4 linked regions of the Homo sapiens genome follow. The protein of the gene in region 2 interacts with the protein of the main gene of each other region in a biochemical or structural test. Each region holds a gene or a part of one and is shown on either strand. Other genes may lie near its edges.

The links.
Region 1: the proteins of ARFIP1 (region 2) and ARF3 form a complex in vitro, tested with the Homo sapiens proteins (2 studies listed by BioGRID).
Region 3: the proteins of ARFIP1 (region 2) and ARF5 form a complex in vitro, tested with the Homo sapiens proteins (one study listed by BioGRID).
Region 4: of the proteins of ARFIP1 (region 2) and PRKD2, one has a biochemical effect on the other in vitro, tested with the Homo sapiens proteins (one study listed by IntAct).

The regions. Positions count from the first base shown.
Region 1 is NC_000012.12:48,935,223-48,940,522, forward strand, and holds the end of ARF3 (ADP-ribosylation factor 3), read right to left. Parts: intron 4,886-5,300; coding exon 4,775-4,885; intron 4,558-4,774; coding exon 4,433-4,557; intron 3,887-4,432; coding exon 3,725-3,886; 3' UTR 517-3,724; downstream 1-516. Other genes in the region: peptidyl-prolyl cis-trans isomerase FKBP11, read right to left, coding at 432-516.
Region 2 is NC_000004.12:152,880,934-152,887,968, reverse strand, and holds part of ARFIP1 (arfaptin-1), read right to left. Parts: intron 7,007-7,035; coding exon 6,785-7,006; intron 5,247-6,784; coding exon 5,089-5,246; intron 1-5,088. UniProt on the Homo sapiens protein: Plays a role in controlling biogenesis of secretory granules at the trans-Golgi network. Mechanistically, binds ARF-GTP at the neck of a growing secretory granule precursor and forms a protective scaffold.
Region 3 is NC_000007.14:127,584,318-127,591,433, reverse strand, and holds the start of ARF5 (ADP-ribosylation factor 5), read right to left. Parts: upstream 3,024-7,116; 5' UTR 2,936-3,023; coding exon 2,869-2,935; intron 2,352-2,868; coding exon 2,271-2,351; intron 1,950-2,270; coding exon 1,840-1,949; intron 1,679-1,839; exon of another isoform or gene 1,588-1,678; intron 1,566-1,587; exon of another isoform or gene 1,483-1,565; intron 1,369-1,482; coding exon 1,297-1,368; intron 472-1,296; coding exon 346-471; intron 222-345; coding exon 135-221; 3' UTR 1-134. Other genes in the region: GCC1 (GRIP and coiled-coil domain-containing protein 1), read left to right, coding at 6,252-7,116.
Region 4 is NC_000019.10:46,673,816-46,679,149, forward strand, and holds the end of PRKD2 (serine/threonine-protein kinase D2), read right to left. Parts: intron 4,849-5,334; coding exon 4,581-4,848; intron 3,642-4,580; exon of another isoform or gene 3,325-3,641; intron 1,304-3,324; coding exon 1,218-1,303; intron 921-1,217; coding exon 708-920; 3' UTR 501-707; downstream 1-500.

The sequences.
Region 1 (5,300 bases), on a different chromosome or scaffold from region 2:
GGTGGAAGCACTGGTCCTTGAGGGTGATGGCCTATTAATAATAGAAGTGCTGAAAAGGAAAATTGGCAGGGGAGGCAGCAGGGAAGTAACTGAATATAAATTATATGCTTCACACTGGTACTTGGGGCTCTCAAACTTATTATATGCCTAAATCCTATCCCTTTCCCACAAAAGCAGGCTGGGAAGACCTCTGTCCTCAAAGCTTAAGAAAATATTAAGATTGGGGAAGGCTTGCCTGGCTCACCCAGACCTCACCCACCCTAAAGGTAGCACCATCCCTTTCTTTGCCTGGAGCCAGACACTGGTAGCAGGGGAGGAACAGAATAGTGGTGGGAGTGCGATGGGAGGATGGAGGCTTTATGGAAAAGGTCTATTCCTCAAGACATTTGTGGGATCTCTGGATGAGGCTTGGCATCCTGACAATGAAAAACCACACGCCTGAAGTAGAGCTGATGCAGGGCCATCAGTTGTAAGAAGGATTAAGGTCATTACACTGCCCAGACGTTTATCCTTCATGTTTATTCACTGCCAAAGTCCAGAACTAGACTAGTGAGGGGGTCTCTGTTCAAACTAGAAGCACCTCATGTGCAAGGCTGAGGAGATCTGAGAGTAGAGGCACATGGGGCCCTCCAAGTTCAGGGCCCTTCAGCCAGTGAAGTCCATACAGTCTACCAACAGGTGAGAAATACAGCTGATTTCAGGTTTAAACCCTTTAGAACTAGAGGAGGAAAGTCACGAAGCCCTCACACTCTGATGCCCAATTCATTTGGGCTCCCCCGCCGCGGGGTATGATGGGAAGAAATAACCAGTGTGGAGTGGCACTAAGTTCCTCCATAACCTTACTCTCTATCAATCAAGTGTGCCTTTTACCCCTTTGCTGAAAGAAGGAGCACTATGGAGAGAGGGACCAGAAACAGGACTCCCCTCACCATGAAACTACTGTCCCACGGCTGCTGCACAGCAAAGATGAAGGTCGGCTCCAAAGCTGCATAAAACAAGTTTAATTTCCAACCAGGGTCACAGTCATCGCGTTATCCCACATTTTGAGCAAGGATAGAGAAGGTGAGTTATTAAACATATACAGTCTACATTCCAGAGGAGGAACTGCAGTTACCACTATAACACCACAGACAAACTTTGGGGTGGGGGGAGCGGGAGTCCTCAGGAAGCAGAAAGCTGGAATCAGGGAAAGCATAAAATTAAACCTACCAGAGAGGAGAGGAGAGGGAGTGGGCAGAAATGGAATGAAACACCCAATCCCAAAAGAGCTGTTAAGTGAATGGGAATGTAGAAAGGACCACCCCTGCCAAGGGCTTAGCAGCCAGGGATACTACCAAGATCACTTACTGCCCCCTGCTGGACAGATCTGGGGCAGCACCAAGGCAACCTCCTAACATTTCCAGCCCCAGATTGGTCCCTGGAGCCCCCAAAAAAACAAGGTGAGGGGTGAGGCCTGAAGTGAGGAAAACCTATTTAGGACTGACATCTAACTAGAGAAAGTCAGGGAATGAGGCAGGAGAAGAGGCAAAGTCCTCATGAACCACAAAGATAGAGTGGAAAATCCTAAGTAGGAAAAAATACATGGAAAAGGGCAAATGAGCAACAGCAGTGAATGAGTTGAGATTGAAAAGGAAAGAGTTCAAGGAAGGAGAGGCAATGGGGCAAGACAAAATAAATCTGAGGAAACAGAGCAAATAAAAAGTATGGAGGGAAGCATCTGTGGGGCCAGGGAAATGAATACATTTTTAAATGAAATAGAACCTCCAACACCCCCCCCACAACCACCACACACAAACACACCCACACCCATATACACACACACTCACACACACACACAGGCCTAGAGAGCAAGATACCTGCACACACCTGCTGCATCCTGGGTAACACATCACTAAGTAACTGGCACTGAGGGAGATACCCCTGGAACCTCTCTTTCACAGTTCAATCTTGGATGGGGTTACTAATATTGATCCATCTGCTATCAACAAAAGTGGCCAGGAAACCTGGCCCCATGGAGTGGGGCTTGGGACAGCCCTACTGGGAAGGGGTCCCTCAGCCATGCTGTGGGGGGCCCTGGGCCCTGACCTTAGCAGGTTATGGGCAGCTGTCTCGGAGCTCAGGGCGCAGCCAGCACACACAGGAGCCCACAGGACAGCCACGTCTTCACAGAAACTACAGAAGTCAGGACCCAGGCGAGGACCTCAGGAACAAGTGCCCCCTGCAGACAGAGAGACGCAGTAGCAACAGCTTCTGAACAACTACATAATAATGCGGGGAGAATCCTGAAGACCACTGCATCCCACAAGCACTGACAACCACTTCAGGATTTTATTTCCTCCACTCTAACCCCCAGATCCATTTATGAGAAGTGAGTGAGGATGGCAGGGGCATGGAGGGTGAAGGGACAGCAAGGATGGTCTGAGGGCCTGGAAACAATAGAAAATCTTCGTCCTTTAGCATATCCTGGACTAGAAAACAAGAGTTGGAGAAGAGGGGGGTTGATACTAAGGTCAGCTATGTCACCCCACTTCCCAGCTCCTCATTAGAATACCCAGTCAGCCCTGGTCAGGCCAGTAGGAGTACTAGGGTGAGAAAATTCTGACCAAGGACAGATGACCCATCCAACCCCTAAGATCAGAAGGGTGGTGGGGCACTGGAAGGCAGGAATGGGATTGGCCCATGCCTCACCTTCTCCTAATAACAAAAGAGAATGAAGATGGAAAACCTCAGGCCTTCGCCTCCCTTCCCCCAATGCCCTGGGTCCCTAACACACACCATGGACTTGCCATCCCCACCCCCCAGTCAAGCTCCAGAGGAACAGATCTGAAGATGGTGGGGAAGGATCAGTTGAACACTCTAAGCTGATAAGAGTGAGTGGGTTCCTCTCTCCTTCCCAACAGTAAGGCAGAGCAGAGTGGCATCTCCTTGGGAACAGTCATCTAGAGATAAATGCCATCCTCCAGCCCTAAGAAGGGTGGAGAGAAGAGTACAAGGAAAATGGTGGTGAAGAATCCATCATCTGTCCTATCATCCAGAAAAACCTACCTGCAGAGAGGAGGGTAACCAGTCAAAGACTGGGGCAGTCCGGCTTGACTAATGCCCTCCCACCTTCTTCCCTTAATCTCACCAACACGGAAGGGGCAGATGACAGGCTCCAGTGGGCAGTGTCCTGGCTGCAAGCCCTGAGCTTCACTCCACCCCCTCCCCGCTCCCCCCGGCCCCCACAAATATATCTCTCTATACATGTATATACAGGCGCACACATGCACGCAAACACAGAGAGGCCCGTGCAATTTCCATGTAAAACAGGGAGAGGGTGGCAAAGGAAAGGCAAACAGGGAGTAGAAGGGCTTGTGGGGACAGGGAAAGGACTCAGATGCCAAGAGGACAGCAACCACTGCCAAACAAAGAGAATACCCCACTCGACCTCCCGAAACCCAGAGGGTGAGAGAGAGAGGGGCCACCCCATGAAACCGTAACAACTTTTTGTTTTAAATCCAGTAAATTGGAATGACTCATCATCAGGACAGCAATTAGGGATTGGTCATATAGGTGGACAGGAAAAAGGAGGGGAGGCAGGGGAGGCAAGGCTCTTGCTGGGCATGTGGACATGATACCCAGGGCCCTGGCCACACTTGCATGGAGAGGAAGGGGTAGGACTGGGGCAGGGTGACAGTAGGTATGTCAGGGGTGGGTGGGGTGCTTTGTTAGGGCTGTCTGGCTTTCACTTCTTGTTTTTGAGCTGATTGGCCAGCCAGTCCAGGCCTTCGTACAGCCCGTCCCCGCTGGTGGCACAGGTGGCCTGAATGTACCAGTTACGGTGACGAAGGGAATGCAGGCCCAGCTTGTCTGTGATCTCAGCAGCGTTCATAGCATTAGGCAGATCCTGGAGCACGTGGGAGACACATAAAAAGAAGCCTCAGGATTTTTTAAAGGCTTCTAGAACACCCATCTACCAAAGAAATGTGTACCAGCACCTTCCCCTCCTCCTTTATTTTAGGAAACCCAGAACAAGATCCTAAGGAGCTACTTTGGATTTAGTCACCTAGAACTCAAGATCCAAAGCACTAGAGGTCACTGTACTGAAGAATTGGAAACCAAATACGAGGATGGTGGGGAAGCAAGAGACGTGATTCAGACTGACCAAAGAATCAGGTCTGTCTGACAGCAGGAGTGAGGCCAATTCTCCTAAAGTAGATAACAGGCAAGATGAAAGAAAGATTTGAGACAATTCCTGAGGACTGAAATGTTGCTAAATAAAGCTTGGGGTGGGGCACAAGAAGAGGGGCATAAAGAAGCCAAGTGCTCAGTTTCCCACGCTTCTAACATTGAGAGCATACTAAAAGGGTTAACCATATAATAGGCCCAAGAGCCAACAATTTCCACAGCCAGTTTGCTGTCTCCCAAATTCAGGGGTGGGAAGAAGTCTCACCTGTTTGTTTGCAAAGACAAGGAGTACAGCATCCCGGAGCTCGTCCTCCGCCAGCATTCTCATCAGCTCTTCCCGGGCCTCATTTACTCGCTCCCGATCATTGCTGTCGACCACAAATATCAACCCTAGGAAGGCAGAGCATGGGCTGCACTAAGATGACAGGTAACCCCCTCCCCCCAACCAAAAGACCACACCTGCCTGACACCCTCCAAATATTTGCTCCCTTTCCTCCCTTTCTTCTGCCCCCAGGAGCTGCAGCAGGGTAACAGTTGGCCACCCATTAACAAAGACAGCCACACTCTCTGCTCATACCCAACCAACCCACGCTAGGCCTGAGCATACCTTGGGTGTTCTGGAAGTAGTGTCTCCAGAGGGGTCGAATCTTGTCCTGGCCACCCACATCCCACACTGTAAAGCTGATGTTCTTATACTCCACTGTCTCCACATTGAACCCTTTGGAAAAAAAACAGGCAATGGCCACTTGGCCTCAAACACTAGCCCCGCAAACACCACCACAATGAGTTTGGTTCTGCTTTCCCCCAGTGGTGGCCATAACACCAACAATGGAACAAAAGCTAAGGCTTCCTCAGACCTGATAATCGTTAAGCTAGCAGCCTGAAGGCCAAAATGAAAACCTAAGAGAAGTCAAAGAGGATGAGGAAGTTGGTTGAGAGGTTCACAGTTGCCTGGGTAACGTGGGCCAACTTTCCTGACTTTTCCACTCAGTCTTTGGTGCTCCCTCCTACAAAATGACTCAGCCCTGCTCTGGTACTTTGGCTACCAGAGTCGGCCTCAGCTAAGATGTGGGGCCTGAGAGGCAGAGTGAAGAAAGGGAAGTAAGCTGGCATCCTGGAGCCCCAAAGGCAGA
Region 2 (7,035 bases):
AAAGAGCTATTTAAATAAGAACAAAGCTGCTGGTTAATCTCATTAACTATTTCTCTCAAAGCACAGTATTAACTGACAAGTAAAATTTCCAAAATCTAAAAACCAGTTAAAAAAAATAAATGTCAAAACAAGATCAAGGGTAGAATAAATACCCCAAGTGAATTGCTTAGTACTGATTAGGCAAAGCAGGTAAGGACAGCAGACTCTAGAATGGCATACTAAAACTAACGGAAGTGTAAATGGTTCTGAAAAAAGTCTGGGTTAGCAATGCACAACAAAAATGTAATGTGAGTAACACATGTAATTTAAAATTTTCTAGTAGTTACAATGAAATAATAATTAATTTCACCTGTTATCAATATATTTCATTTTACCCAATATATCTAAAATATTAATCATTGTGGCATGTAATCAATGTAACAGAATTATTCATAGGTACTTTACATTTGGAGAGTGGGTAGTGAGTCTTTGAAATCCACTGTGTATTTTACACTTCTATCCCATCTCAATTCAGACTAGCCACATTTCAAGTGCTCACCAGACATGTGTGGCTACTATACTTGACAACACAACTCTAGATGAATTTCTGTAACATCAGTATTCAGAATGTAACAACAGTATCTATTGTAGAGCACTTACCATCCTGTGTTCTGTAAGATGCCTCACTCTGATATTCTCCCCCCATCAACTCAAATAGTTACCCCACCACTGTCATCACTCCAAGATCCCATAACTCCTCATAATAGCTCTATCACAGTGCCTGTCTAAGTATAGTACTATCTTGCTTATTAAACAGTGATTTATCCAGCAGCTTCAACTATTCGGTACTCAGCAAAGAAGAAGCAAAGTGACCTCTAATTTAGTCAAGATCAGAATCACAAAGCTTATACCCTAAAACTAAAGCTCTTTATTTGGAGATATTAGGTGTATAATTCACATCTCCTATTCTGGGAATTAACAATACTTTAAATAACATAATCTATATTGTATATATGACTTGAGAAAGAATACATCAGTCCTTCACACTGATCCTAATTTATTCTTAACTCATACTGAATTTAGCAGTATGAGTTAAGATTTAATTTAATTGGCCTCTTTCAGGGTCAAAAGAGAACCATTCATTCATTCACTGATACACTGATTCATTCAACAATTCTCAAGTGAGCACTTTCCACGTTCCAGGCACTGTGTTAGAAAGTAGAGCTATAAAGATGAACAGATATGTTTATCCTCAAGAAGCTCGCATTCTAGAGGAAGAGAACCTTGTAAACAATTACAACAAAATGAGATAATAAGAACTACCATAAATGAGGGTAAGGTATAATGGAAATCAAGAGGAATAATTATTTAATTAGATATCTGAAAAGGTATCTCAGACAGAATTAAAATACTATAATTAAAATTTGAAGGATGGTAAAAGCTGGCTAGGTGAATTGGGATACAGAAATCAGTAGGATACTCTGATTCTGAAGAGAATAGCATGGACAAAGGCATAGATTTGTAAGATACAATGACACATTTGGGAATTCGGTATGTCAGAATCTGAAGCTGGAACATGACAATGGAAGGAATTAACATTAGACAGGCAGGCAGGATTGAAAGTAAGCAGCCCTACAGGCCATGTTAAAGTGTTTAAATTTAATCCAGTAGGAGAAGTAATGGGAAGCCACTGAAGAATGTTGATCTGACATAAAAATGACATGATTGTATCAGGATAGAAAGATGACCCTGGTGGTAGTGTAAGAGATGGAGGATAGAATAAATGATTAAAAAATCAGGAGCAAGGAAACCTATTAGAAAACGATGGACATATAAGAAATGAGTCACTGAATCAGGACAAAGGCATTGGAGCTAAGGAGACAAATACAAAAGATTTAGGAGGCAAGACTGACTTGGCAATAATAACTAGTTAGTTAAATCCATGGGTTCAGGAGCCAAGCTGAATGACCTCTCTGCCTTTTGGCTCTATTCTTGAGCTGGTTATTTCATCTCTTTGTGCTCCAGTTTTTCAATCTATAAATGTGAACAAAAATCTCCACAAAAACTTCATATAGATAAAACACACAGGATACCTGGTAATAACTGATACCTTTAGAATGCTTATTATTATGGCCAAATTAGAAGAGGGGTATCTAGAAGCAAGCACACTAAAAACAATAGGAAATAAAAGAGAAAAAAGTAGAACTAAATAAATAGTAATACATGGTGATTTAATCTAAGGACAAATATCCTTCAATAGCCTTGGAGCGCATTTCTAAACAACAGTGATTAACTCAAACATATTCAAAGTTATAATACTGACCTTATATTTCTTAATTTTACATTCAGAGTTTGTAGGTGGTACCAAAGTAAAACTTTCCATAATAGCTTCTCTAACAGTGCTCATTACCACCAAGAAGAGAAGCTCACTAAGTTTTCAAAAAGCAACTTCACTTCAAGGTTGCCCGTCTGAACTGAGTCCGTATCAACAAAGTTAGTGACGGTTACTTTATGGCTTATGTAAAACTTCTAGAGAACAGGTGTCCACATCTGAAAAGTCTCGACCACAATTGACTCCCTTGTTGGTGCTGCTGTGGAGAAGTGTTGAATGGGCTGTTACAAGATTTTCTATACATGAAGCACCAGAGGGCTAGGAAATACTTGTACACAATGCATAATAGGGAGGATTAAAAGGCCACTCGGGCATTTGCCTAAATTACCACTTTTTGCACTGATCAAATAGATGACCCTTGCCCTAAAAGTCAGTAAATTCTGGCTTTGACAGAGAAGGAAATTCAGCTACTGAAAAACTTTTAACCTTGGATTCTTTTTGACTATTATCCATCAGTAGGCAAGGTTTTAGTGTTAACAACTAGCCAATTCCACAGCTATTTCATAAACAACAGAAAAGTCAAACCCCAAGCTAAGCTTAATGAATAAGATCATACATTGTAATTTGAATAAAAAAGGATAAATTACGGGATGACATAAAACAAAAACAACATTACTGTTGTTGTTTTTTAAAGTACACACAGAGGCTGTGTAAGGGTTTCCCTTAAGAAACCAGCCACCAAGTACATGTAACTTGATTTATAATTTTGTTCAAAAGTTCCAAATGAACCTATATACTGTATTTTATAATCTGAGATCTTATACCACATTATACTTAGGGCACTAATACTCAGGTATAAGGCCTACTGATAAAATGTGAACCATAGAGAACCAATGGGTTCTTATTTTGCCTTTGAAATTGACTACAAGTGAGCAAACCATTTAACCTCTAGAGTGTTTTCTCCTCTACAAATTAATTATAAACTGTTTAGAAATAAAAGCTGAAGGGAAAGAGATTATTATTAACGAAAATATATTTCAGGATAGGTAGACAATTGCAAAGTAGAGAAACTAGATTCACAAAGTTCTCAACTAGGAGGTGGTGGGGGTATTTTTGGAAGAAAACAATATCCATCTTTAAAACCCATACATGTTAAAACAATCAGAAGGACTAGAAAATATGAATATTTAAAATGATTAGAGATAAAAGAAACAGTACCATTATGAACAAATTAGGACATTATGAACAAGGAACAGAAAAATTTAGAAAAGGATCAAGTAAAACTTATATAAATGAATTTTAAAATTCATATACATAATGAACCCTTTGAAAAATATAATTTCCATGAAAGGATTTACACTGAGACTGAAACACCAATTACTGAGAATGTTATTGAAGAGATTTCCACGGAAGGCTATCTTACTAACAGCTATCCTCACCCTTACCCCTCCATACAACCACAGCTGTTTGACCTTCATTTTCAAGTCAATAAGAATCTCATACTTTAATACTAAATGGAAAATGACAAAATAAACATGGTATGGGACAGAAGCATCTCTTCCTGTGAAAACATCAAAAATTAACTTTTCAAAATGATTTGGGCTTTTACTTAATTGAAGTGTAAGGAAATATATATTTAATAAGCACTCAATTGCAAAAATACTAGATGAGTTTGGAGTTTTTTACAGGTATTTCTCATACCATTAAACTAGGATAAGAGGCCAAAGAGTAAAGTTATCCTTCTAAAAGGTAAAGTTTATCTTCAACTATGCATAAAAAGTATAATGGAAAATAAGAATTTTGAGTGCTCAAAAGAAAAAAACCTCAAAAGGGACTAGAATGATACTTAAATAAAAGGGGTAGGGCATATGGGGAAAAAATTGGGCCTGGAATCAAAAGGTGAAAAAGGCTATTATAGGTCTGCCATATTTTAGACCCTTCAAAATATTTATTAATATATTTATTAATATATATTTTGTTCACCATTTAACAGGATAGTTATGAGACAGGGAAACTGTATATATACATATATATATGAATATGGATATACAAAAACCCATTAAAATAGGATGTATAAAAACACTGCATTATGAACAGTTATCAAAATACAAGTCAAATATTTAATTTATATAAAAGGTAAAATTTGAAAGGGTTTGAAGGCTTGTTATAATCTGGATAAATGGAAGATGACTGATATCCTAACAAACAAAAATCATGGAGGCAAAATGAGCTTATTTATTCAATAGAAACTGAAAGTATGGGTCTGGCTATTGTGGAAGCAGTGGTAATAAGGATGAAAGGTAAATTTAGGCGAGAGTATAGAGGACCATGTAATACCTACCTGGTAGAACATAGGGCCCTGTCCTCTTCTAAAGAAGCCAGAGCTGGGAGATCCTCCATTTCCCTACTCACTAGAAGGCAGGGTTTGGGCACATGACCAAGGCTCAATTAGATAATCTCAAGGCAATGAAGCAAGTATTCATGGGTATTTAGGAAATTATTTATGGTAGCTGTGGCAGCATCAAGTACTAGAGGCACCCAGCATAGGGGTTCTAATTAGATTCTTCTGAGGCTTAACTTGGCTTTGGTTCTTGGTTGTTTCCAGAATCTTGTTCTCTCCCTTTCTGCCAGGTCTGTAGAGGCATCCTATAACTTTCCAGTACATTTTTTTCCTGCCCATATTGGCCAGAGTTGGTTTCTGTTGTTTGTAACCAAAAAATTAACTGAATTATATGCCATCTGTAAAACAGACAACACAGTGAAAATGTATACCTTACCTGGCACTTTCATACTGTTTCACAGTCATTAATGTATCTTCAATGGTTTTATTCACCAAAGTGTTCACACTAGCAATGAAAAAATTAATGGCCCCAAGAAGAGTCTCTCCATTTTTAGCCAGCAGTTTCTGGGTATCGGCATTATAGCCAAATTCTTCCTAAAACAAAGAAGTCACCTTAATTTATTCAGTAATAAATCAGTAAAAGTGACTTAAAAATCTCAAGCACGTCACTAATGGGAAAATATGTGATTTAGATAGAGATCTAGCTGTAGCAGTTTTACTTTTCCTTTCCGTCTTTAAGAATCGAAATCACAGCTAGCCATATAATTACTGAAAAAGTCTAATAAACCAAAATTGTCATCAGCTCAGATACATACCTAAAAGCTAAATAATTTTTTTAAGTTACTTTGTAGTAGAAACAATATTTTCATTTCTACATTTTGTTTCTATTATACTATAAGCACAGCTGTTGGAAAGAAAAATAGAGCAGATTATTAATCAGAGAAACTATAACTTTCACAGCCAAATTAGGTAATAATTGGTTAAAACTTTCAGACATAAAACAAAGTGCATTTTTTTTGTGTTTTGACTGATTCTCCTCAAAGTATAAATATTAACAATACATATTTCTTTGTAAACTTGGTGACTAGCTGACTCCCAAGCTCAGCTCTATTTAGGCACACAACTGAGGAAGGATCACTCAACACCAGCTTTAGTTCATTCTTTTTGAATAAACTGCATCTTGGTGCAGTAAACATTACACATGACTCCTTCAGATATGGCAAGAACTAACTCTAGCTCTGTATATTCAGCAGTGAAAGCTTTCCAGTGCAAGTTTTACTAATTAACAGATTAATCAGGATGCACCTAACCAAATAAAAAACCGATCACATATTCTAAGATGTATCATTTAATTTGATAATTCTCCAGTTTGTTACAAAACACTTTTCAATTTCAGTTGAAACAAATAATGTAATATTAAATTAACTAAAATATTAGAAGATACAAATTTAATGCTATTGCAATAGCTGTAATTACGTTTCTTAGGTGACAAAGTATTCAATAATTCAGAAAATAGCAGGAAAGTAAAATTATCCTTATTATGCTAAAACCATTTTCCATTTAAGAGATGTCCATGTAACTCCACTCTGTACTCAGTCTTCAAAATATTATAGACCTTGATTTGTTGCAAATATTGGCAGATAAAGGACCACATAAAAAGATTACCAATCAATGCATGTAAAAACTAAAATGAAAAGCAGGACAGCTTAAGATTTTTGGCACCAAATTTCCACAAGCTAAGTTACACACTTCACTGAAGTCTACATAAATGTTACTGGAAATAGAATAATACAGAAAACAACATTTTTACAACTTTTAGAAAAAGTTAACAGAACATATTACAACAGTAACCCTTGATATTGATTAAGGAGTAAAAGGCAAAATAAAATATTAACAAACAGGAAGAAAAATATGAAAGATTTATATACATATGATAATTCATAAAAAGTAAAGTTAACAGAAGTCATATCACTTTAAGAGGGCCTTCTTAAAGTGATATGAAATATCTTAAAAGAGAATCTCAGAATTCCATCTTCATTAAGAGTTCAGCAAATCACAATAACAAATTACCTCTTAGAATACTTCTATTATCATTTTCTCCCATCCCTAATAGTTATTTAGAATAATCTTACATGAAGTTCTAGTGACTTCAAACTCAGGTCAGCAAATGCATCTCCAAGTTGCCTTTGGGTATGTACCATCTGGAAAAGCTGGGTCGACAATGTTTGAGCCAGTTTTAAAATATTTTCATATTTTTTCTTGTTATCCCTTAATATATCAATCTGAGCTTCAAGTTCAAGGTCCACAGTTCTTGAGCCACGGCCTAGCTTCTCAGAGATAATCTGTCGAGTACACTAAAAGTGGAAGATGCATTTTGTTTAGA
Region 3 (7,116 bases), on a different chromosome or scaffold from region 2:
AGCAGGAGCAGAGGCCTGTGGCTATGGGGGAGGAAAAGTGGGAGGAAAGGGCACTGCCTGAGGAGTCCGGGAGTCTGGTCATCCCGGGGATGCACGCAGGAGCTTCCGGGCATCAGGGGCCTGCCCCTGGCTGGTTAGCGCTTTGACAGCTCGTGGGACAGCCAGTCCAGACCATCGTACAGACCTGTGCCTTGGGTGGCACAGGTGGCCTGGACATACCACTGTGGGGAAAAGGAAAGAAAGAGGTCAGCAACCAGGAACAAAAGGAATGCCTTTATATCTCTGTCCCAGCCTGCAGCTTCCCTCAAGAGGCAGGATTCAGCACCAGGTGGGCAGGACCCCTACCGTGCGGCTGCGTAAGTGCTGTAGCCCCAGCTTGTCAGTCAGCTCGCTCACGGGCATGGCGTTGGGCATGTCCTGCTTGTTGGCAAATACCAGCAGCACTGCATCCCGCAGCTCGTCCTCCTGCAGCTGAGAGAGGAGAAGAGAAGGTGGGACCCAGGCTGCGTCTCCTCTACTGTGTTGGGGAATTCCCTTTCTACCTCCTAGCATCTTGATTGGAAAAAAAAAGTATTGTGCAGTCTGCCGTTGAAGACAAGACATAGTTGTAAATGAGCTTGAGGTGACCTGAGCCCATAAGTCCAGAAAAGAAAGACCTTTTCCTAATTTGAGTACTTGCCTAGGCAAAATGACAACATTTCCAAATGGAAAAGGCAGGAATGTAAAATGTTTCTCTTTGCCACATATAAGTCCCATCTCTCCCACAACTTCTCAGACTCAGATGTAAAGACATGAGAATGCGGCCGGGCGCAGTGGCTCACTCCTGTAATCCCAGCACTTTGGGAGACCAAGACGGGTGGATCACCTGAGGTTGGGGGTTCAAGACCAGCCTGGCCAACATGGTGAAACCCCGTCTCTACTAAAAATACAAAAATTAACTGGGCATGGCAGCGGGCGCCTGTAATCCCAGCTACTTGGGAGGCTGAGGCAGGAGAATTGCTTGAACCCGGGAGACGGAGGTTGCAGTGAGCCGAGATTGCACCATTGCACTCCAGCCTGGGCAACAACAGCAAAACTCCCATTTCAAAAAAAAAAAAAGACAAGACAATGCACAGAAAAAGTGAAAAAGTCACTCCCATCCAAAACAGGGTGAGATACACAATGTGTCTGTCCACAAAGAAAAACTTATATTCCTGGTCTTCAATGCCTGTTGGGGGCTCCCTGACTTCTATACCACTACAGAGATCACTCTGTCCCCAAGCTGAGGGCTCAGTTCCCAGGGCTCTGGGTACTCACCATCTTCTGGAGTTCATCAGCAGATTCTTGGACCCGCTCCCGGTCATTACTGTCCACCACAAAGATGAGGCCCTGGGCAGGAAGGAAGGAAGAAAGGAGAAGCAATCACTTCTGCCTGGGACATACCGTAGTGTGGCCCTTTCTGTTTTCTTCCCATTTGTAATTGTGTCAATCCTTCTCATCTAGTAAACTCTACAGAAGTTTACAGAACTCTATAGAAGCTCTACAGGAGTCATGGCACAAACTAGAGACCCCACTGCAAAGAGGAAGTAGTTTATCCAAAGATGTGCAAGGAAATAAAGACATGTTATGAGGGCTAAATCAGGCAGCCTGGTCCCAGAATCCTGCTTCTAAAGAGAAGTCCAAGCTGGGGAAGACTAAGGTGAGTTCTGAAGAGTGAGTAGGGGATAGCCAAACAGAAGGGGTAGAAGTGGGGAAGGGTTTTTTCCTTGGCCTGGGGGCCCAGCCTAGGCCAACAATTCTGTTCTCCCAGCCCTAACACCTTTTCCCGTGGGGTTAGAAAGTCCCCTCCCAACACTCCACCTGAGTGTTCTGGAAGTAGTGCCGCCACAGAGGCCGAATCTTGTCCTGGCCTCCCACGTCCCAGACTGTGAAACAGATGTTCTTATATTCCACTGTTTCTACATTGAAGCCTGCAGATAATTGGAAAAAAAAGATGAGAAAACTCCTGAAAGAAAGGAACTCACTAAAACTACTTAGATTTCAGCAGGGACACAAAACCAGAAGGCAATGATCAAGGCCCAGGGGAACAGAACCCCAGAACTGGCGGTCAACAGGGCGGGGCTAGGTCACATCCACCCTGCCTCCGGTATCCACGTAGAGATACCCTGACCCACTTCTCAAATAGCTGTATCTGGTGTCAGGGTCAGCTCCAGAAAAGTGGCAGAACTGGGAGCAGACCCCGCGAGGGCCCGCCGCGGCGCTCCCGCTCCCTGCTTCGTCCCCGGGCTCACCTATGGTTGGGATGGTGGTGACAATCTCCCCCAACTTCAGTTTGTACAGGATTGTGGTCTTGCCAGCCGCATCCAAGCCAACTGCAACGGAAAGGGGCACAGGGATGGAGATGGGAGCGAGGGAGCCCCCTAGAGACCAGGGAAAGGGAGAGGCCACAACAGCTGATGGTGACTGGGGCGGAGAGCGGGAGCGCCTCCAGGTGCGCGTCGTTATCTACCTTTGAGGCCTGGAGGGCAGTCGGGTGGCGTGAGCCAACTCCAAAGAGGGCGCGGAGCGGGAGAGGACTGGGAGGCAAGGGGCACGGGAGGTAGGCCGCGCTCGTTTTAAAAGTCGTCTCCAAGGGCGGAATCCTCCCTTCTTACCAGCCGGGCTGGGGCGGAGGGAGCTTCACCCCACCCAGGCCCGCAGCTCCGGGTGTCAGGCCCCGGGGTCGGCGATGCAGACCGGGACCCGCCCGAGAGCAGAGGCCCCGGGGCGTTATGAGGTGGGTGACTCGGGGCCAGAGACCCAGGTGAGCGGGGCTGGAGGGACGCGGGGGCGGAAGGGCTGCGCCGGGGCCGGCGCCCCGGTCCGGGCCGCGCGCTCGATCTGCCTCACCCATGAGAATCCGCATCTGCTTCTTCCCGAAGATCCGCGAAAAGAGCGCGGACACGGTGAGGCCCATGGCGGGGCCCGGGGAGGGGCGCGGGCACCGACGCGGGGTGCGGGCTGGAACTGGCCGGCCGCGGGGGGATGGGGCGCAGCAGCAGCAGGAGGAGGCTCCGCCGCCGCCTCCGCGCGTCGCTGCCCTCCCGACGTCACCGCGGGCCCGCCCCCGTCCGGGCCCCGCCCCCGGCTCTCGGCCCCGCCTCCCCCGGCTCTGGCTCCTAGGGGAGCTGAAGCTCCGCGAGTTGCCGCTGCTGGCCTGGGTCCCGTGCGGCCCTTACTTGGGAACGGGTCTAGGTCTCTAACGCGCCTGCCAGGCCTGTGGCCGCCGAACCGGCAGCCCGAGCGCGGCTGAGGAAAGGATTCATCGCTCCGCAGCGGCCCCTGCCCCCATTTTCAGTGGCCGGCCGCTGGGCTTTGGTTTGTTGCGTCCAGGCCCCTAGGGGCTCCGGTTTTAGCCCTTGGGAACCAGTAGCACTGAACGTGTGCACCACTCTCCTTTGGGGAGTGGAAGCTGCGATTAGGGGTCTTGGTCCTCCCTTTACTGCCTCATCTTCCACCGAGGGACTTGCGCGTAGTAGGTGGTCGTGTGAAGAGTGCGCGGGAGGTAGGGGAAGGTGCCCGAGTGCTAGCTAGCTTCCATGGTTCCTCAAAACGCCTACTTCCTAATTCCCAATCCGCAGAACCAGTGTAAGATTCCCGGCCTTGGGCGGCGGGGTCACAGACCCACTCCTGGGCTGTTGGAGAAGTCCACCTTCGTTTGGATCGCCCTGCGGGCCCCGCCTCTCAGTCCAGGCGCTGGCCGCTTTGCCGAAGTTCCTCACTTTGCCACAGACTTGTGGACCTGGCTTATTCTTGCACATCCATTCAGGATTTTGTGAAGATCTTGACTCCGTAGACCCAAAGAGCTTCACATGTCATTTCCCTGCCTCATTTTAACATCTGAGAGGAGAATAGCAAAATAGGAATGAAATTCTTCTGCGGTGGAGACTGGCTCATTGCCAGGCATTATTAGGCCTAACAAATGCTTGTTCAGTTGAACTGGACTGATAGATTCTCAATGGAGCGAGGGTAGGTGTTATGTCTACTCTGGATTCCCAGTGGGCTTCTAGGATCAATTGTTTATGGACTCGAGGTAAACTGAGCTGGGAATAAAAAAACCTTCACTCATTCATTTGCTTTTTCAGCAGATATTTACTGAGCACCCACCACTTGCCAGCACGTGATTTCAGGCTTTAGTTCAAATCTTAATTCTGCCATTTCTTGAGGATTTGGCTTCAGCACTCCTCATAACTCTTCCGTTATTTCATCATCTATAAAATGAGACTTGTTCTAACTTAAGGGGTTATGGTGAATCTTAAAATGATTTGATAATGTGACTGAATGTTATGTATAATACAGCTTGATGTTATTTGGGCCACTGAGAAACGGGGTCTGAACAGACCTCCAGGGCCTGCCCCATCCTGATCTGCAAAGTCTGTAACAAGGACAGACTTTGGGAAACAGGTATGAGTGAGTGAATGACTTTCCTTTTCTCTTCAGTCATAGACTTGCATCCCTAAGAAGGCTTTTACGAGGCTGAAGAGTACATTTTAGAGAGTTCCAATATAATAACAGAACTAGTGTTCACCAAGTTAGGTCAATTCTACATTTAGCTCTTTTATCAGCCTCTTTGCTTCCATCTCTGTTGTCACTACCTTCTGTTCCCCATGACTGAAAGTCTCCTCACAGGTTTCCTGCCCCTTGTTCCCTCCAACATGTCATACAAGTCTTGATGACATCCCACTTTTCAGATTAAAATCCATTAGGGCCTTACTATAACCCAAGATAAAATTTAAATGCCATAAGTTGGGTCCCTACCTATTGTGCCAGCCCCTCTGTTGTCACCTCCTTCACATACCCTAAGCTACTGAATGCTTTCTGGGTGAGTCAAACTCCGATACCCTACAGGTCTTTGCATTTTTTTCCACCTGCCTGGAATGCTAGTTTCCCTGATCTCTGGTTAGGTGGACAATCACGACTCATCCTTCAAATCCCAAAGTATTATTCCCAAGAGCCTTCCATGCCTCACCTAGACAGGCCTCTTTCCTCTTAACTTTCATACCACTTTGAATATACCCAGACATACTGGTGTGATAGCAGGACATATTTGTATGTCTGGTTCCTCACTAGATTGCGAGCTCCCTGAGGGCAAGGTCGTGTCTCTTAATGGTGTTACCATCTGGCACAGCACGTGATACGTTGAGAATCAGACTGATTAGAACTCCTAAACTTACTAGCTGTGTGACCTTGGGCATGTTACGTATAACCTTTCTGCCTCATGTTTTCATATCTGTAAAATAGTGCTAATGAGTATAGTGCTTACAAGAATTACTGTAAAGACTAAATAGCAAAACTCTTGTGAGCTCCTGGTATATAGCTGGCACTCAGGATAGACATGGCTATAGAGTGCCCTCCGTAAATATTTGTGGAATCAACTCAGCAGAACTAAGGAAGGGTACTATTAGGCTGTATGCCTACTAGGTACCAAGCACTGTGCTATAGAGGACTGCAGTTTTCGTGGTCTAAATGGGAGTCTTAATTGTTGCCTTTTAGGGACCATGGGTCCTGAGCTCCCAAATCGTTGGATGCGTCGTTCACCTGGGTGTTTGGTAAGAATGCAGTGCGACGTTGCTCTGTCGCTCGCTGAGCGTAGCCCGAGGTCAAGCTTGGGCGCTCTCACAAAACCGGTGCCACTCTGGTGTCTTCGACTTTGCTGGCTTCGCCTTTCCCAAGCCTGTTTTTTGCCGCTCGCGGCCCCACTGCGTTCTCAACAGGCCGCGCCCACCCACCGGCCGACTTGGCCCCGCCTACCTTGGGCCCACTGGGGGCGGAGCCTGCGGCGCCTCGCTGACGTCACTTCCAGCGGACACGGAAGCGCCGTTGTCGGCAGGCAGCTTTAGTTAGGATGTCGTGATGGGACCGAGCTCAGCGTAACCCTCTGGCCGACGTGGGCCGAGGGGGCCGGCCCGGGCTGCTGTGGCCCAGACGAGCGGAGAGTGCGGAGCGGCTTCTGGGCCAGCGCTAACGAGCCCTGGCAGTGCGCACCTCTGGTGCCAGTGTCGCCCCGCCTCCGGGGTAGAATCCGCCCCAGCCCTCCGGGCCTGGGACCGGGCGGCCGCTTTCGCCAGTCCGTCCGGCCGTTCCGCATTAGGTCCGGGATAACTAGGTGGAGTAGGTGTGCGGCCCGCCGCCGGACAGCCCGCTCGCTGTTTCTTTAAGCCCCCGCCTGCGTCTTCACGGCCCTCTCCCGTTCTGCTGGAAAGCTGACGTGGGGCAATCCGTTCAGACCCTCCATGGAGAAGTTTGGGATGAATTTCGGGGGCGGCCCGAGCAAGAAGGACTTGCTGGAGACTATAGAGACCCAGAAGAAGCAGCTTCTCCAGTACCAGGCACGGCTCAAGGATGTGGTCCGTGCCTATAAAAGCCTGCTGAAGGAGAAAGAGGCATTAGAGGCCAGCATCAAGGTGCTGTCGGTATCCCACGAGGCAGATGTGGGCCTCGCAGGTGTCCAGCTTCCAGGCCTCACCTTTCCTGACTCTGTGGATGACCGGTGCTCCACTCACAGCGAGGATAGCACTGGGACCGCCACTAGCTTGGATACTGCGGCCAGTCTCACCAGCACCAAGGGTGAGTTTGGGGTAGAAGATGACAGACCGGCCCGTGGACCACCACCTCCAAAGTCCGAAGAGGCCAGTTGGTCCGAGAGTGGCGTTAGCAGTAGCAGTGGGGATGGGCCATTTGCAGGTGGGGAGGTGGACAAAAGACTGCACCAGCTGAAGACTCAGTTGGCTACTTTGACCAGTTCTTTGGCTACAGTCACTCAGGAGAAGTCCCGCATGGAGGCTTCTTACTTGGCTGACAAGAAAAAGATGAAACAGGACTTAGAGGATGCCAGTAACAAGGCGGAGGAGGAGAGGGCCCGCCTGGAGGGAGAATTGAAGGGGCTGCAGGAGCAAATAGCAGAAACCAAAGCCCGGCTTATCACGCAGCAGCATGATCGGGCCCAAGAGCAGAGTGACCATGCCTTGATGCTGCGTGAGCTCCAGAAGCTGCTGCAGGAGGAGAGGACCCAGCGCCAGGACTTGGAGCTTAGGTTAGAAGAGACCCGAGAAGCCTTGGCAGGACGAGCATATGCAGCTGAACAGATGGAAGGATTTG
Region 4 (5,334 bases), on a different chromosome or scaffold from region 2:
GGTGCAAGCCACCACACTTGGCTAATTTTTGAACTTTTTGTAGAAAGGGAGTTTCACCACGTTGGCCAGGCTGCTCTCAAACTCCTGAGATCTAAGGGATCTGCCTGCCTCGGCCTCCCAAATTGCTGGGATTATAGGCATGAGCCACCACACCCAGCCTGAATTAATAGTTGTGATTAGTAGTAACACCACCACCAAATAAAAAATCAGTCATCACAAACCATGAGATTACTTTTTCTCCAAGTTCTCTACCCTCCAGTCACATTCCTTCCATCTCTCCCCAGTTTCCAACTCCTCCTCCATTACTCCTCCCTCTCCCTTCTCATCTTCTCTCCTGGCACTCTTCCTGTATATTTTCTACCCCAGCTCGTCCTCCTTCCAAGACTCCTCTCCCATCAGTCCTCTCTCCCCACCCCTTCCATCCTTCCTCTTTTCAGGCAGTCCTCCTTCCAGATGAACTCCATGTTGGTACAACAGAGTAATGATTCGAGAGTGCCGTGTGCTGAGATCAAGGCCATGGGGCCAGAGATGAGTCCGTTTTAATTGCTGGGGAAACAGGGAGGGGCCTTGGAAATAGCTCCCCCCACCCCACTCCCCACGTGTCCCATCCAGTTTGGGCAGGAAGCCACTTTCCCTAGAACAGTTCATTGCTGGGATCCTGTGAAGAACCGCTGTGGAGGGCAGCAGCTGGACGAGGGCACAGGACCTCAGAGAACACTGATGCGCTCCGCCAGCCCCTGCATGTCGTGGTCCTGTGGTGGACAGGCCCCACCGAGATCCCTGTCCGTGGGCAGCCCAGACCCAGGCAGCGGATGCTCTGCTGCAAACTGCTCCCAGCGCGCGTCGTCACTCTCATGCGTGATGTATCGCTCTCCCATCTTCCCCTCCAGCTCTCGGAGGTCCAGCCACGTCTGGTACTCCTGGGCCCGAGAGAACTGGGGTTAGCTTGGGGTCTGCATTGGAGCAGTGCCTGGATATCCTCTGGTTTGCCACTGAGAGCTGGGTACCAATGAAGGTGAAGCCATACCCTCTGCAACCCACCCAGCCAGTAGACATTTAGCTCCACCCCCTCTTCCTGCACCCAGCCAATGGGAGGCCTAGCCACATTCCAGACCCAAGGAAACCTACATCCTTCACAACCTGCCTAGCCAATAAGCGATCTACTCCCACCCCTTCCTCCAATCCAGCCAATGGGCCAGCCCTGCCCCCTGCATCACCTGTAACCAGGGGTGGCTGAGAGATTTGTCCACGCTGTAGCGTTTGCGCATCTTCACCTGCAGCAGGTTGTTGATGAGGTCAATGGCTGCACAGGAAAGAGAAACAGGTCAAGCCCTACAGGTCAAGGGTCACTCCTCCTCCAATAGGCACCCCCTAGCCTACCTGCCTGCCATCAACACCTTCCTTCTGCACCAGCTCAGGTGGCTCAGAAGCCTCACCTGTGCCAATCACTCACCCACCCATTTCCTCATTACATTACAAATTTGTCTCCTCCTGCCCATGCATGTTCACACCAGCTCCCTCTCTTCACCTGTTCTCTACTTCAATTTCCCCATTCCCCTATGTCACCTTTTTTTTTCTTTTTGTCATATACAGGTACATACAATTACACCTGTACTATTCTTTTTATTTTTACTTATTTATTTATTGAGACAGAGTCTCGCTCTGTCGCCCAGGCTGGAGTGCAATGGCACGATCTTGGCTCACTGCAACCTCCGCCTCCCGGGTTCATGTGATTCTCCTGCCTCAGCCTCCCAAGTAGCTAGGAATACAGGTGTGTGTCACCATGTCCTGCTAACTTTTTGTATTTTTAGTAGAGATGGGGTTTCACCATATTGGCCAGGCTGGTCTCTAACTCCTGACCTCAAGCAATCCGCCTGCCTTGGCCTCCCAAATTGTTGGGATTACAGGCATGAGCCACTGCGCCCGGCCTAAATGGATTTTCAACCTACAATACTTCCTTTTTTTTTTTTGAGACAGGGTCTCATTGTTACCCAAGCTGAAGTGCAGTGGCGTGATCAATGCTCACTGAAGCCTCCACCTCCCCAGCTTAATTGATTCTCCTGCCTTAGCCTCCTGAGCAGCCAGCTGGGACTACAAGCACCTGTCACTATGGCCGGCTAATTTTTGTATTTTTTGTAGAGATACATTGCCCAGGCTGGTCTTGAACTCCTGGGCTCAAGCAATCTGCCTACCTTGGCCTCCCAAGGTGCTGGGATTATGGGCTTCAGCCACTGCGCCTGACCAACTTATGATATTTTCAATTTACAATGGGCAATGGGTTTATCAGGTTTATCTAACCCCAGTGCAAATCAGGGAGCATCTATGTCATCAGGCTGGGCGCGGTGGCTCATGCCTGTAATCCCAACACTTTGGGAGGCCGAGGCGGGTGGATCACCCGAGGTCAGGAGTTCGAGACAAGCCTGGCCAACACGGAAACCCCGTCTCTACTAAAAATACAAAAAATTAGCTGGGCATGGTAGCGCATGCCTGTAGTCCCAGCTACTCAGGAGGCTGAGGCAGAATCGCTTGAACTCAGGAGGCAGAGGTTGCAGTGAGCCAAGATCGTGCCACTGCACTCCAGCCCGGGTGACAAAAGCGAAACTCCGTCTCAAAACAAAACAAAACAAAACAAAATGTCATCAGATGGTAGTTAGTCACCATTGCCTGCAGAAGGCTCAGAGATAGGCCTGTTCATTGTGAAAAAGAGGACTAGCGAATGTCAAGCTTCAAGACAAGCCAGCACTCATCCGAGGCTCTCTCCTTGATGGGAAGCCATGAAGGACAAGGCTTCACTGTATGAACCCATCCGAGGAGAGGCCTGGTGCACACAGGCACCCTGCTCCCGTCAACACCCACAGGATTCTGTGATCCTCACACAGGTGCAACCACACTTAAATTCACTTGTGCACACTCGATGCACTTTTACTGAGGGACTTCTGAGTGGGTCTCAAAAGACAATGCTGGCGGGGTGTGATGGCTTATGCCTGCAATCCCAGCACTTTGGGAGGCTGAAGCGGGCAAATAACTTGAGGTCAGGAGTTCAAGACCAGCCTGGCTAACATGGCGAAACCCTGTCTCTACTAAAAATATAAAACATGAGCCAGGCATGGTGCTGTGTGCCTGTAATCCCAGTTACTCGGGAGGCTGAGGCAGGAGAATCCCTTGAACCCAAGAGGTGGAGGTTGCAGTGAGCCGAGATCACGCCACTGCACTCCAGCGTGGGTGAAAGAGCGAGACCCCACCTCAAAAAAAAAAAAAAAGCCAGTGTTGAGCACCCCCAATATTACTCCAGGACTCAAGTCAATCCACATTCTCACTGCTTAGGGCCCATGCTCTTAGACCACCACCAAGACCTTGTCTTGTCCTGCACCGAGCAACCTCCGTGTCACCCTGCTCCACCTGCTCCATGAAGCCGCACCCTCCAGAGAGGACCCTTCCCCTTTCCACCCTTCGCGGACCACTCAATGAGCTACCCTGCACCTGACCCCTTCTGTCCAAGTCATCACAGTATTCCCAGAGCTGGAACAGTCAATGCCTGGCACATCGTGGGCACTCAACATGTTGAATCAATGGTTACAAATACATGAATGTACTTGTTGAATAAATGGTTATAAATAAATGAATGAATGATCCCCCCCCTTCCCATACTCCATCTGTCTTCCTGAGCTCCCTGGCTCCAACACAGGTCCCTTGTTCTCCTGGCTTCTGACACACCCCAGTATCTTAGCCCTGCCTCTGGCCCTCTAAACATGCCATCCCACACCCAGCCTCAAAGCTCCAGGCCTTAGGACTTAACTTTTCCAAGCAGGGAAAGTTACAGACCCATTCCCAAGTAGGTTCAAGTCACCAGGCCCGGTGCCACTTCATCAGGCCCAGCCACAACACCAAAGCCCCAGAATGCAGAGTGCAATGTCTGCCTCAGTCCTGGCTCCCTTCTCCTCCCCACTCCCATCCACTCCCAGCTTCCAGGACTCAGGGTCAGCCCTGTTCCTGGACCTCTTCGGAAACCCTCCACGGCCACGTCCCTAGACTGGCTCCCTTGGTCACTGAACCGACCCCAGGCTTCAGGCCCATCTTCACCCAAGTCACGGCCCCAGTACACAGCAAAGTAGCCATGCCCTTGTTTCTCAACCCTACCCACCGGTGCCTCCTTTTTGCAAGGCTGACCCTTTTGGGGTCGTAAACCCAAAGGCTCCAGGTCCCAGCCAATGCCTTGGGAGGCTCAGCCCCTTCTCCTGGTCACCGCAGCCCTTTGGTACCCTCAAGTCCAGTCCCTTTCCTGGTCCCACCCTAGACAAGCCAAGTCTCACTCAGCCCCCCTAAGGTTCCAAGTGTCCTCAGCGCTTCTGGGGCACTTGGTTTCCAGCCCAAGTAACCTAGTCTAGGCCTGAGTCCCAGCCCATCTTTTACAGGACGGCTCCTCCTGTAGCCACATCCCTCCAGTAGGCCCGCCCCAGCACTGGGCTCCACCCCCAAGGTGCCAGGCTGTTTCCGGGTCCACCCCCCTCTCATGGCTCCGCCCACTTCTCCAGCCCCACCCCACAACCCACCCGCCCATGGGGTAGGCGGGCCCCAGGCACCTCCAGCTGAGATGTGGCTCCAGGGGCTGGCCGGGTACATGAAGGCGGCGTTCTGGATCTGGTCATTGATGTCCTCATCCTCGTTGAAAGGGAAGGTGCCGCTGAGGCTGACGTACATGATCACGCCCACTGACCACATGTCCAGCGAGCGGTTGTAGCCCTGGTTGAGCAGCACCTCGGGTGCCAGGTAGGCCGGCGTGCCCACCACTGAGCGGCGGAACGACTTCTCGCCGATGATGCGAGCAAAGCCAAAGTCACACAGCTTCACCTGCAGAGGGCAAGGGATGGAGGCTCCACCAGGTGATGGAGCCGCACCCACCCCAGCATCCCCACCACACCACCCTCCATGGTATTCCAGAGAAAGCTGGATGCTGGTTTGAATCCAGGCTCCTTGGCTCACTAGCTGAGCAACCCTGGGCAGGTGACTTCCCCCCTCTGTGCCTCAGTTTCCCCATCTATAGGAAGAAGAGCAGAAGAGCACCTATCTCAGAGGACTGCCATGATGGTTAGTGAATTAAACCATCCAAAGCCCACAGGACAATATTTGGCATTCAGTTGGTGCACAATAAATGCTAGCTGCTGCTATACCTCTGCCACCTCCAATGGGTCGCTGTTTCCTCTTTTGAATAATGCAGATTTTTTTTAATAGCCTCAAAATATACATGATTGGGGCGTGGTGGCTCATGCCTGCAATCTCAGCACTTTGGGAGGCCAAGGAAGATGGATCATTTGAGGTCAGGAGTTCGAGACCAGC